Linked DNA regions of Homo sapiens: region 2 is linked to region 1. The links come from fine-mapping of genetic effects on gene expression. A gene starts in region 1. The other region holds a variant in brackets. All regions are shown on one strand. Distances are between the middles of the regions. Region 1 holds the start of HRCT1 (histidine rich carboxyl terminus 1). Region 2 has its middle 9.9 kb from the start of OR13J1.

Region 1 (5,376 bases):
TTCCATTATTGGAACACTAAGCATGTGGGAGTTATTTTTATCATACTGATCAAGGTCATTGCCAAGGTCTGATTGCAAAAATTCAAAAAATTGCAACCTTAGGCATAAATGGGTTAAGTCATGGAGGACTGTATTCTCAATGGCTGTCCCTCACTGCCCCCAGGAGTGCCCAAAGCATCTAAACAAATGTTCACTTTGGGATCCTACTACCCAGATGGAGAGTGAACCTGCACCTAAGGAAACAGATGTCGTGTGTATGTGTATGTGTGAGGGGGCACTCCCAACCCCTGCGCCCTCCAGGTTTATTCACATCTCCACCTCATCTTCCCGCTGTCTCTGTGGAAGGCCCTGCTGATCTCAGGCTGTCACTCTGGACGGCTCCCTCACTGCAGGGATGGTGCTCTGTTGAGTACCTGCTGTATAGATTAGCGCACGAGGCTGGGAGAACTTAGGCAAGTGTTTCCCTTCTCTGGCTTCAGTTTCTCCATCTGTCAGTGAAGGCTGAGTCTGGGTGATTCCAAGGGGCCGTTTGAGCTGACTGAAGTTCTTCAAGTTCATAGTTGTAAGGTCCTGCCCCGCCGCCAGCGGCTGGTGTGGGGTGGGAGTCTTCCTGGAGAAGTTCTGAGGACGAAAATCCCCTGTTTGCCTTCCTCCTCCTCCTCCTCACAACAGACTTCCCTCCTTAACTTCCCTAGGGAAGGCAGCCGGGCTCCCAGGGCCCCAGGAGTCTGCAGGAGGAGTTCTTACTCCAGCATCATTAAAAGTTCAAGTAGCTCCCCCAAGGGCCAAAGAAGTGCCAGGATTCATTAGACCTGCTGCCCCCTGAGCCCAGTTTGGTTGAAGGGAATGTTTAGCCTTTTCATCTGGTGAGGGTTTTCATTAAGGGTTTGAGGCCTCCCTAAGAGAACTCACCTCAGACTGAGGTCAGAGGGGGAAGGGTCCCTGGAGGTCACCTCTTGCTCCGGGAGTTCTGCAGAGGAGACAGGCTGGATCAGGGCAAGGGGTTTGCCCAACATCACAGGGTGGAGGTGCTGCCAGAACTCAGAGAACCAGCCTTGCGGTGTCTGCAGACATTCCTCCAGGCGGTAGGGAGATGAGCCTGGAGGGAGGGGCTGGGGACTCAGCCTGGAGGGACCCTGCAGAGCCAGACACAGAGCTGGGGCTTTGGGGAGCCCCACTGCATGTGAGGAAGAGCTTGGAGAACAGCCCAGCATGCCCACAGCAGAAAGGGTTGCCCAGAGAGAGAGTGAGCACCTGTTGCTGAGGTCTGTCAGCAGGATGGGACGGTGCCTCCCAGGAGGAACAGAGGGGATTTGGGCCTGGCGGGTGGGCTTGGAGGGACAGTCAGTACTGCTCAGATCCTGCCGCTCTGTAAATGCTCCACTAGGCAGGAATGGCACTCATCACTGCTGGGCAGGGAGGGTGTGACAGAGCAAGGAGCATGCCATTTATGGCCAGTTGAGACTGTTGAACTGGGAACCAGGAGGCTGGGCTGTGCCTGCCCTCTCTGAGCTCAGTGGCCTCCTTCTTGCCTCCCAGCAAGCTTGGGAGGACACCCAGACCCTCCTGCCTCCCAGAACAGGCCGGATGGAGGACCTCCCTGGATGGCAAAATCTGCCTGTGGTGCCTCCCTGAGCTTCTCAAGCTCATTGAGCTCGGGATGGCTCATCTGACAGAGCCTGACTCAGCCCCGGAGGGCTCTGCAGGCTGCAGGACAGGGAATCACAGACTCTCAGATGTCAGTGTCTCCTGAGCCATGGAGTCCATTGCAGTAATATCAGTTGCAAACATGACGGGAGCTGGTGTTGCTGCTTTACGCATCTCAACTCCTTTAGTCCTCGGAACACCCTACTGAGGAAGGAACCGTTATCAGCCATTTTACAGAAGAGGAAACAGGACAGAGAGGTTAAGTAACTTGTGCACAATCTCAGAGCAAGTGAGTGGCGTGGCTCCAAAGCCCGTGTTGTTCATCTCTGTTCTACACAGTCTCTACGAGAGGAGACTGAAGTGCGGAGAGGGAAGGTCACTGAGCCAGGCAGCAGGAGGGTTTCTTTCCTCTAGACTCAGGGCTCCTCCCTCAACCAGATCCAGCCTGACAGCTCCTCTGTCTCCACCTGGCCTCCCTGCCAGGCCTCCTCAGAGTTAACAGCGGCCTGGCCTCACCCTTGGCCAGCAGTTGCAAGTCCAAACAGGCTTCGCCCACATTCCCTGGCTGCTCTCCAGCCCGCAGCAGAGACAACAAAGTTCAGTGACTGAGAGGGCTGAGCGGAGGCTGCTGAAGGGGAGAAAGGAGTGAGGAGCTGCTGGGCAGAGAGGGACTGTCCGGCTCCCAGATGCTGGGCCTCCTGGGGAGCACAGCCCTCGTGGGATGGATCACAGGTGCTGCTGTGGCGGTCCTGCTGCTGCTGCTGCTGCTGGCCACCTGCCTTTTCCACGGACGGCAGGACTGTGACGTGGAGAGGAACCGTACAGCTGCAGGGGGAAACCGAGTCCGCCGGGCCCAGCCTTGGCCCTTCCGGCGGCGGGGCCACCTGGGAATCTTTCACCATCACCGTCATCCTGGCCACGTATCTCATGTGCCGAATGTGGGCCTCCACCACCACCACCACCCCCGCCACACCCCTCACCACCTCCACCACCACCACCACCCCCACCGCCACCATCCCCGCCACGCTCGCTGAGGCTGCTGTCGCCGGTGCCTGTGGACAGCAGCTGCCCCTGCCCTCCCATCTGTTCCCAGGACAAGTGGACCCCATGTTTCCATGTGGAAGGATGCATCTCTGGGGTGAACGAGGGGAACAATAGACTGGGGCTTGCTCCAGCTGCATTTGCATGGCATGCCCCAGTGTACTATGGCAGCAGAGAATGGAGGAACACTGGGTCTGCAGTGCTGAAGGGTTTGGGGAGTGGAGAGCAAGGGTGCTCTTTCGGGGCTGGACAGCCCGTCTTGTGACAGTGACTCCCAGTGAGCCCCAGAAATGACAAGCGTGTCTTGGCAGAGCCAGCACACAAGTGGATGTGAAGTGCCCGTCTTGACCTCCTCATCAGGCTGCTGCAGGCCTCTGGCGGGCAGGGCACTGGGAGAGGCCCTGAGAATGTCCTTTTGGTTTGGAGAAGGCAGTGTGAGGCTGCACAGTCAATTCATCGGTGCCTTAGTCCAAGAAAATAAAAACCACTAAGAAGCTTTTGTGAAGAGGCTCTTGATTGCAGCATAGTGGGAGGGAGGGAGCTGCCTGGCCTGTGTCCTCATTGCCCTGGGACCTCCCTCTCTGATGGGAAGCGTGTGGCTGGAGCAGGCGGCTTCTGTCTGGTTCTTAGGGGCTGGTTGTGGAGTGGGAAGAATTGGGTGGGCTCTGTCTGAGCTCTGAGGGAGGATTCAGGGTTTGCACAAAACCCTGCCCACAGCAGGTCCTGTGTGCACCAGCAGGGCTCTGGCCTTCCGCGGGACAGTCCTCGGGGAGAGGAAGGTTGGAGCCGCTGCGAGCCTGGCTCCCCAGGGCTCTGCCCCTGTACTTTTTTCAGCCCATGTCCAGGGCAGACTGAGCTCTGAAACTCGAGGAAGCCCCATCCACAGGCTGCCTTGAATCCAGTTTCCTTGGTAATTGGATCAGGGTTTCTTCTCCAAGCCTTGCGTTTTCAGCCATCCTGCCCCAGCTGGTGCCTGTGTGTGGTGGGAGGGCTGGGAGGCAGCGAGTGGAGTTCTTTAAAGTGGAGGCTGTGGTGCTGGGGTGCAGGGTGTTGGATGGCCTTGGGAGAATGCTGGGGTCTCACTTTCCTCTTCTCTGCAATGGGGTGGATAACAGAGATGCCCACGTGCCGAAGCCTGGAGGCTCGTTGGAATATGCTCTGTGAACAGCTAGTGGGATCCACAGCGAGGAAGGAAGCCTGGCTCTGAGGCCTTCAGCCTGTGCCTGTGAGCTGAGGTGGGAATTGGGGGAAGACAAGGACTGGGGGCCAGGAGAGGCAGTGGGGAGGGGCTGGAGAGCAGGCCAGAGACTCAGGGACCTGGTGACTCACTGGAATAGAATGTCCTCTTTCCTTTCTATTTCCCAGTGGATTCTCTGTGAGGGCTGCAGGAGGAGGGAGTGAGAGAGAGAGGGAGGCAAATTCACACTGATTTCTCCCACCTGAGGTTTCTGGGTTGGGAAAGTTGACCCTAGGCTGCCGTGCAGTGTCGATTTTCTCTGCAGTGTCCTTCAAATCCACCCCCTTCTCCATTCCCATGCCCTGCCTAGCCCAGCCCCCTCCATCCCCCTCCTGGATTCCTGCCAGCCTGCTCCCTGCAGCCCTGCCCCTTTCCCAGGCATCTCCAGGCTGATTTCACAGATGAATCAAAGATGGGGAGGAGGTTCCCCGAAAGCAGGAAACGGAAAAGGAAGCCTATGCAGGGCAGGAGAGAACCCGCTGAGCAATTGCCCTTTATTCCAGTTCAAAAATGCGGAACCACTCAGACAATCTGCAGGCGGCCTATGGCTGCGTGTACACAGGAAGAATAGGCGATGAGAAATCAAAGGAACAAATGTTAAAGCTTGAGGCATAGTCTCCTGGTGCCCTCTATCACCCCAGTTAAGGAGGTGATGTTGGTAACTCAACCTGAAACCACAGGCCCTGCAGATCAGCCCGTCGTCTCCTTCCTCCTGGTCATCCCAGTTAATACAAACAATCCAAGGAATTGGCTTCCTGTCATGGCCCACAGCCTGCTCCATGTGGAGGAGGAGCCCAGGGCCCAGATGGTCTCATCATCTCAGAAAAGGGACAGATTGAGAATATGACAGGCTATCGTTTGCTCTGAAAAGTTGCTCTCCCATTCTGTGCAAAGTGCCAGTTTCCTAATGCTGATACTAAAGAAAGTTCCCTTGGGCCTTGGAGAAACTGAAAAGGACCCAGGCTATGTGAACTTGGGCCAGCCCTCTGCCCTTTCTGGCACTTTGCACCCAGATCATTAAAACCGCAGAATCAGATGGTCGCTCTGTGGTCCCATGGTAACTGGAAAGTGCACTGAGCTAGGAGTGGAGGGAGGGCGGTCCCTCCTCGGCCATTGCTCGTGCCTGTTAACATGGCTAATTCAGAATGGGGGGCAGGTCATTTAACTTCTATGACCATAGGATCTTTTTCTATAAAATGGAGGCTATATCGCTATGCAGGGTTGCTGGGGAGGTTATATGAGATCATGTCTGGTGAGGTCCCATGCCTGGAGTTATTGTTCTCACTACTCTGTTTCCCAGAATATGGACAAAGTGGGGCTAATAGCCCAGTCTCCTTTCTGGAAGTGGTGGGGGTCTCAGGAGGTGCTGGGTGTGAAAGGGCTCTCACCTGGCAGACTAACTCAGTTGCCTGGGCCTAGCTTATTCCCCTGACCTCCTGGCAGGGAGGAGG
Region 2 (5,376 bases), 26 kb before region 1:
GCTGTATGTAGCCTTGGATATGTGCACATTCACACCCTGGGATAACAGTGGTTTTAGCAGAGCCATTTGACTGTTGCTTTTCCTGATCTATTTGTAAAAGTATCTACTTCTGCTGGTATCACAGCCAGTGTTAGGCTCCACAAATTGTCATCTGATTGCTTTATTGTTTTTGATCATGTGATGGGGAATACATTGTGCCACAGTCTGATCCAATTAAATTTGGGCAGGAGTATTTTTGAGGCCAGTCTTTGAGGTTTGTTTTGACCCCAGGAGGATTTTCCTTAGCTGTCTTTTTCCACGGTATTCTGCTGTTATTGGGTGAAGGGTTTTATAAATATCAATTAAGTTGGATGAAAGTATTGTCCAAGTCTCCTATATTCTTACTAATTTTCTGTCTACTTATTTTTCAACTACTGAGACAGGGATGTTGAAATCTTTGGCTGCAATTACAGATTTGTCTATTCCTCCTTTCAGTTCTATCAGGTCTTGCTTTATGTATTTTGAGGCTCTGTCATTAGATATATAAGCTTTTAGGACTGTTATGTTATCTTGATGAACTGACATCTTTGTCATTTTCAAATGACCCTCTTTATCCCTGTTAATGTTTTTGCTCTAATATCTACTTTGTCTGCTATTAATATAGAATTGGAGCTTTAATTTTTTTTTTTTTTTTTTTTGAGATGGAGCCTTGCTATGTCGCCAGGCTGGAGTGCAGTGGTGTGATCTCGGCTCACTGCAAGCTCTGCCTCCTGGGTTCACACCATTCTCCCGCCTCAGCCTCCTTTGAGTAGCTGGGATTACAGGCACGTGCCACCAGGCCCAGCTAATTTTTGTATTTTTGGTAAAGACGGGGTTTCACCATGTTGGCCAGGATGGTCTCAATCTCCTGACCTCGTGATCTGCCTGCCTCGGCCTCCCAAAGTGCTGGGATTACAGGCGTGAGCCACTGTGCCCGGCCGGATCTTTAAAAATTTAATCAGACAATCTCTGCCCTTTAATTTAGATGCTTAGACCAATTGCATTAAAAATGACCAGGGACATAGTTGGATTTAAATATTTCATCTGGCTGTTTGTTTTCTATTGTTCCATCTGTTATTTGTTCCTCTTTTAATCTACCTTTAATTAATGTAATACCACCTCACCTATAGTATATAAATGTCGCAACAATGCCCTTTCACTTCCCCTCATCTGGGTTTTGAGCTATTGTTGTTATATATTGTAATTCCACATCTGTTAAAATTCTATAATACCTTATTACTTTTGCTTCCAATAGTCAACTATGCCATATATTCCTTCCTTTAAAAAAATTATTAGCTTCCTATTGGCCACATCCAAGCTATGTTTTAAAAGGTTTAAAAATTAGAGTAAAAATATTTTATATTTATTCACATATTCACCATTTCTAGGGCTCTTTATTGCCTGGTATAGATAGGTATTTTCTTCTGATAACATTTTTCTTCCACCTGAAGGACTTCTTTTAACATTCTTATAGATCTGGACTGTTGGTAATAAAATCTTTCAAATTTTGTATGTCTGAAAATATTTTTATTTAACTTCAGTATTGAGAGGTATTTTGCTTAGTATAGAATTCTGACAGTTTAATTTTCCTTTTACCATTTTGAAGATATTGCGCTACTGTCTTCTGGCTTGCATTGTTTCTGACAATGACTGCTGTCATTCTTGTTTGTTCCTCTGTATATAACGTGTCTTTTTCTATGATTGCTTTTAAGATGTTCTCTTTACCGCTGATTAAAGCAATAGTATTATAATATGCCTTGGTGTAGCTGTCTTCATGTTCTTCTGCTTGGGCTTTGTTGAGATTCTTGGATCTATGATTTTGTAGCTGTCTTCTTGTTCTTCTGCTTGGGCTTTGTTGAGGTTTTTGGATCTATGATTTTGTAGGTTTTTTTAAGTGTAGAAAAATTTTGATCATTTTTTTTCTGTCCATTGCTTCTTTTCCTGAGATTCTAGTTGTACCTATATTAGGCTACTTGAAGTCCCAAAGCTCACTGATA[T/C]TTTATTTATTTATATTTTTGTGTATTTTATTTTGGTTAATGTATATTGCTATGGTATCAAGTTTACTAATATTTTCTGCTGTAGGTTCTAGTCTGCTATTAATTCCATCTAATATATTTGAAATTTGTTTTAAATTTTGAAATAATCTTAGATTGGCAGAAGAGTTCTAAAGATAGGATGTAGATTTCCTGAATAACTTTCAACCAACTTCTCCTAATGTGAACATCTTATATAGCCATGAAATGTTCATCAAAACTCAGAAATTAGCAGTGACACAACTAAACATAATTGGCACTATTAACTAAACATAATTGGCACTATTAATTAAACTACAGGCTTTATTCAAATTTTCCCAGTTTTCCCACAAATATCCTTTTTCTGTTCCTGGATCCAATCCAGGATATCATGTTGCATTCATCCATTTGATTTTTTTTTAATCTCAAAAATTGTATTTTTTTATTTTTAAAAGTTTTATTTGGGTCTTTAAAAATCTTCTGTGTCTTTCTTTAATATGTGAGGCTTGCTTTTAACAATATACCATGTCTTGTGTATATATATGTAAATGTGTATGTACACATATATACATATGTGTATACATATATACACATATGTATATGCACATATATAATATATGTATACATATATATACACACATATATACATATATATACACACACACACACACACACACATACACATATATATATATACATAGAGAGAGAGAGAGAGAGAGAGATTGAGAGAGAGAGAATGGAGTTTCACTCTTGGTGCCCAGGCTGGAGTGCAGTGGCGTGATCTCGACTCACTGCAACCTCCGGCTCCCAGGTTCAAGCGATTCTCCTCAGCCTCCCAAGTAACTGGAACCACAGGCATGCACCACCACACCGAGCTAATTTTTGTATTTTTAGTAGAGACGGGGTTTCACCATGCTGGTCAGGCTGGTCTCAAACTCCTGACCTCAGGTGATCCACCTGCCTCGGCCTCCCAAAGTGCTGGGATTACAGGTGTGGGTCACCGCGCCCGACCGTAGATATTTTTATATAATTGTTTCTTTGTAAGTTATATGTAATATTCTATTGTGTGAATATATTATAGCTTATTTGAGTATTTCCTGTTGTTAGACATTTAGGTTGTATCTCATGTTTTCTTTGGCCATGCAAACAATGCTGCAAATCATATCATTTTACATGACTCTTTGGCACATGTACAGATACTTCTCTAGGATAGATATTTTGACAGGAAGTTATTGGATTGAAGGTATGTTTATTTAAATTGTTGAAAGATGCCCTAAATTGCCCTCAGAAATGTTGTCTTAATTTAAATCTCCACCAAGAATATAACAGTACCCATTTCTCCATATCCTGACTGATACTGGGTGTTATCAGTCTTTTATTTTTTATTTTTAAGTTAAAATTAAATTAAATTAAACTTTTAAAGAGATGGAATTTTGCTTTGTTGCCCAGGCTGTAGCGCAGTGGTGCAATCATAGCTCACTGTAACCTTGAACTCTTGGGCGTGAGTGATCCGCATGTCTCAGCTTCCCGAGTAAGCAGGACTACAGGAGCATGCCAGCGCACCCTGATGATTATTTTAATTTTTTTTTAGAGATGGAGTCTTGTTATTTGCCTAGGCTGGTCTTGAATGCCTGATCTCAAGTGATCCTCCCCCTTCAGCCTCCCAAAGTTCAGGGATTACAGGCTTGAGCCACCTCACCTGGCCTCAGTCTTTTAAATTTTGTATTACAATGGGTGAAAAAGGATATCTTGCTGTTTTATTTTACATTTCCCTGATCACTAAAAATGTTAATAATAATTCTATTTGTCATTTTTTGCCATTAAAATTTTTTTCTGTTGATTATCTCTTCATATTTTATGCTCATTTTTCTAATTTTGAAAATAATGATTTCTAGAAATTCTTTATATAGTCTCTATAGTATTTCTTTGTGTATTATATATGTGGCAAACATTTTATGTCAGTTACCTTTTTTATTTGTGTATGATATCTTTTGTTACATAGAAGTTTAATTATTTGGGGTAGCAAATTTCTTTTTCGTTGTCTCTTGTGTAATATCCCCAAGGTTTTAAGTACATTCGCCTTTCTGTATTTTCTTCTAATGATTTAAAAGTTTTACTTTTCAATTTAACTTTTATTTTATCTGGAATTTACTTATTGAGTGAGTGAGGTAGGATAAGTAAACTTATTTACTTGCCACAATAAAATTTATTATGGAGGTCATTCTTTTCTCATTGATTTAAAAAATGCCACCTTTCTCATATACGAATTTCTCACAAATTTATTAGTCTCTTTCTGGACCTAGTGTTATGTTCTAAAGAAATTTTATTGTCTTTCTGTCCTCATGTCACACTGTTTTAATTACTATGGCTTTATAGTGATTTGTAGCTTTATGTTGATATCTGCTAGGCGAAATCCTCTCTTACCAGCCTTTTTCAATCATTTTTTGGCTATTCTTGCACATTTTCTTTTCCAGATAAATTTTGCAATCAGCTTGTCACATTTCACAAAAATTCTCCTGGGATTTTGCTTGTAATTTATTGGCTAATTTGGGATGGAATTGACATCCCTACAAAATCAAGTTTTCTCATCCAAGAACATTGTTTTTTGTCTTTCCATCAATTCGGGTCTTTACTTTGTCATAACCATATGGCTCCTCTCCTTTTAATATGTTAATAAAGTGATTTATATTAATGTGTTTTTTTTCCTAATGTTGAATTATCTTTGTATTTCTGGGATAAACCGTTCTTCTTCCTTATGTTTTTTATTCTTGTCATGCATGGATGCTGGATTGATTTCAGGTGAGCTGATCTGCTTCAGCTCCTGGGCTCCCCCTGGTGGCCATCAGGCCCTTCTCTGTGACCTTTGGGGATGGGGTTTGAAATAGCTGTGAAATCCTGGACTCCAGGGCTCAGGCAGCAGGATCACAGATCTAGGAATCTGGTAGACATAAAATCTGCGTGCCCGAGTTATGTAACCATCTGTTTTGCCTCCTTGGGTTCTGTTAGTTTCTCTTTGCTAGGAGACCCTGAGGAAAGAGATCATATCTGTGTTAAAAGAATCTACCCTCTCAGAATCCAACAGTCCATTCACTGACCTGTCCCTTTCTCTAAGCTTTATAATTACCTTTATGTCATTTTCAATGAAGGGAAACCCTCAAATATAGTTTCACTTTTACGAATCTGGATGGCTTTTCATATCAGTAAACTTATAAATCAGAAATTATGTCCCAAATTTGGTCCAGAAAGTAAAATCTTGCATCTCTGGTATTTTGACAGGGATTGCATTTAATATGTAAGTCGCTTTGGTAGTATGGTCATTTTCACAATATTCTTTCCATCCACGAGC

Evidence for each region. PIP is the estimated chance that this variant, and not a neighbour inherited with it, causes the effect.
Region 2: its variant is fine-mapped to the expression of HRCT1 in lung (TOPMed, PIP above 0.99).

What each region holds. Positions count from the first base shown.
Region 1 is chr9:35,903,955-35,909,330 of GRCh38, forward strand. HRCT1 (histidine rich carboxyl terminus 1) reads left to right here and starts at 2,248. Exons shown (of 1, transcript NM_001039792.2): 1 at 2,248-3,182. The coding sequence starts at 2,334. The coding sequence ends at 2,681. LOC124902149 (a long non-coding RNA gene) reads right to left here and starts at 1,716. Exons shown (of 3, transcript XR_007061471.1): 1 at 414-1,716. RefSeq lists an enhancer at 914-1,795.
Region 2 is chr9:35,877,567-35,882,942 of GRCh38, forward strand. No RefSeq gene overlaps it. Among named protein-coding and RNA genes, the nearest start is that of OR13J1, 9.9 kb to the left of the region's middle. The variant T/C (reference allele first, on the strand shown) is at 2,016.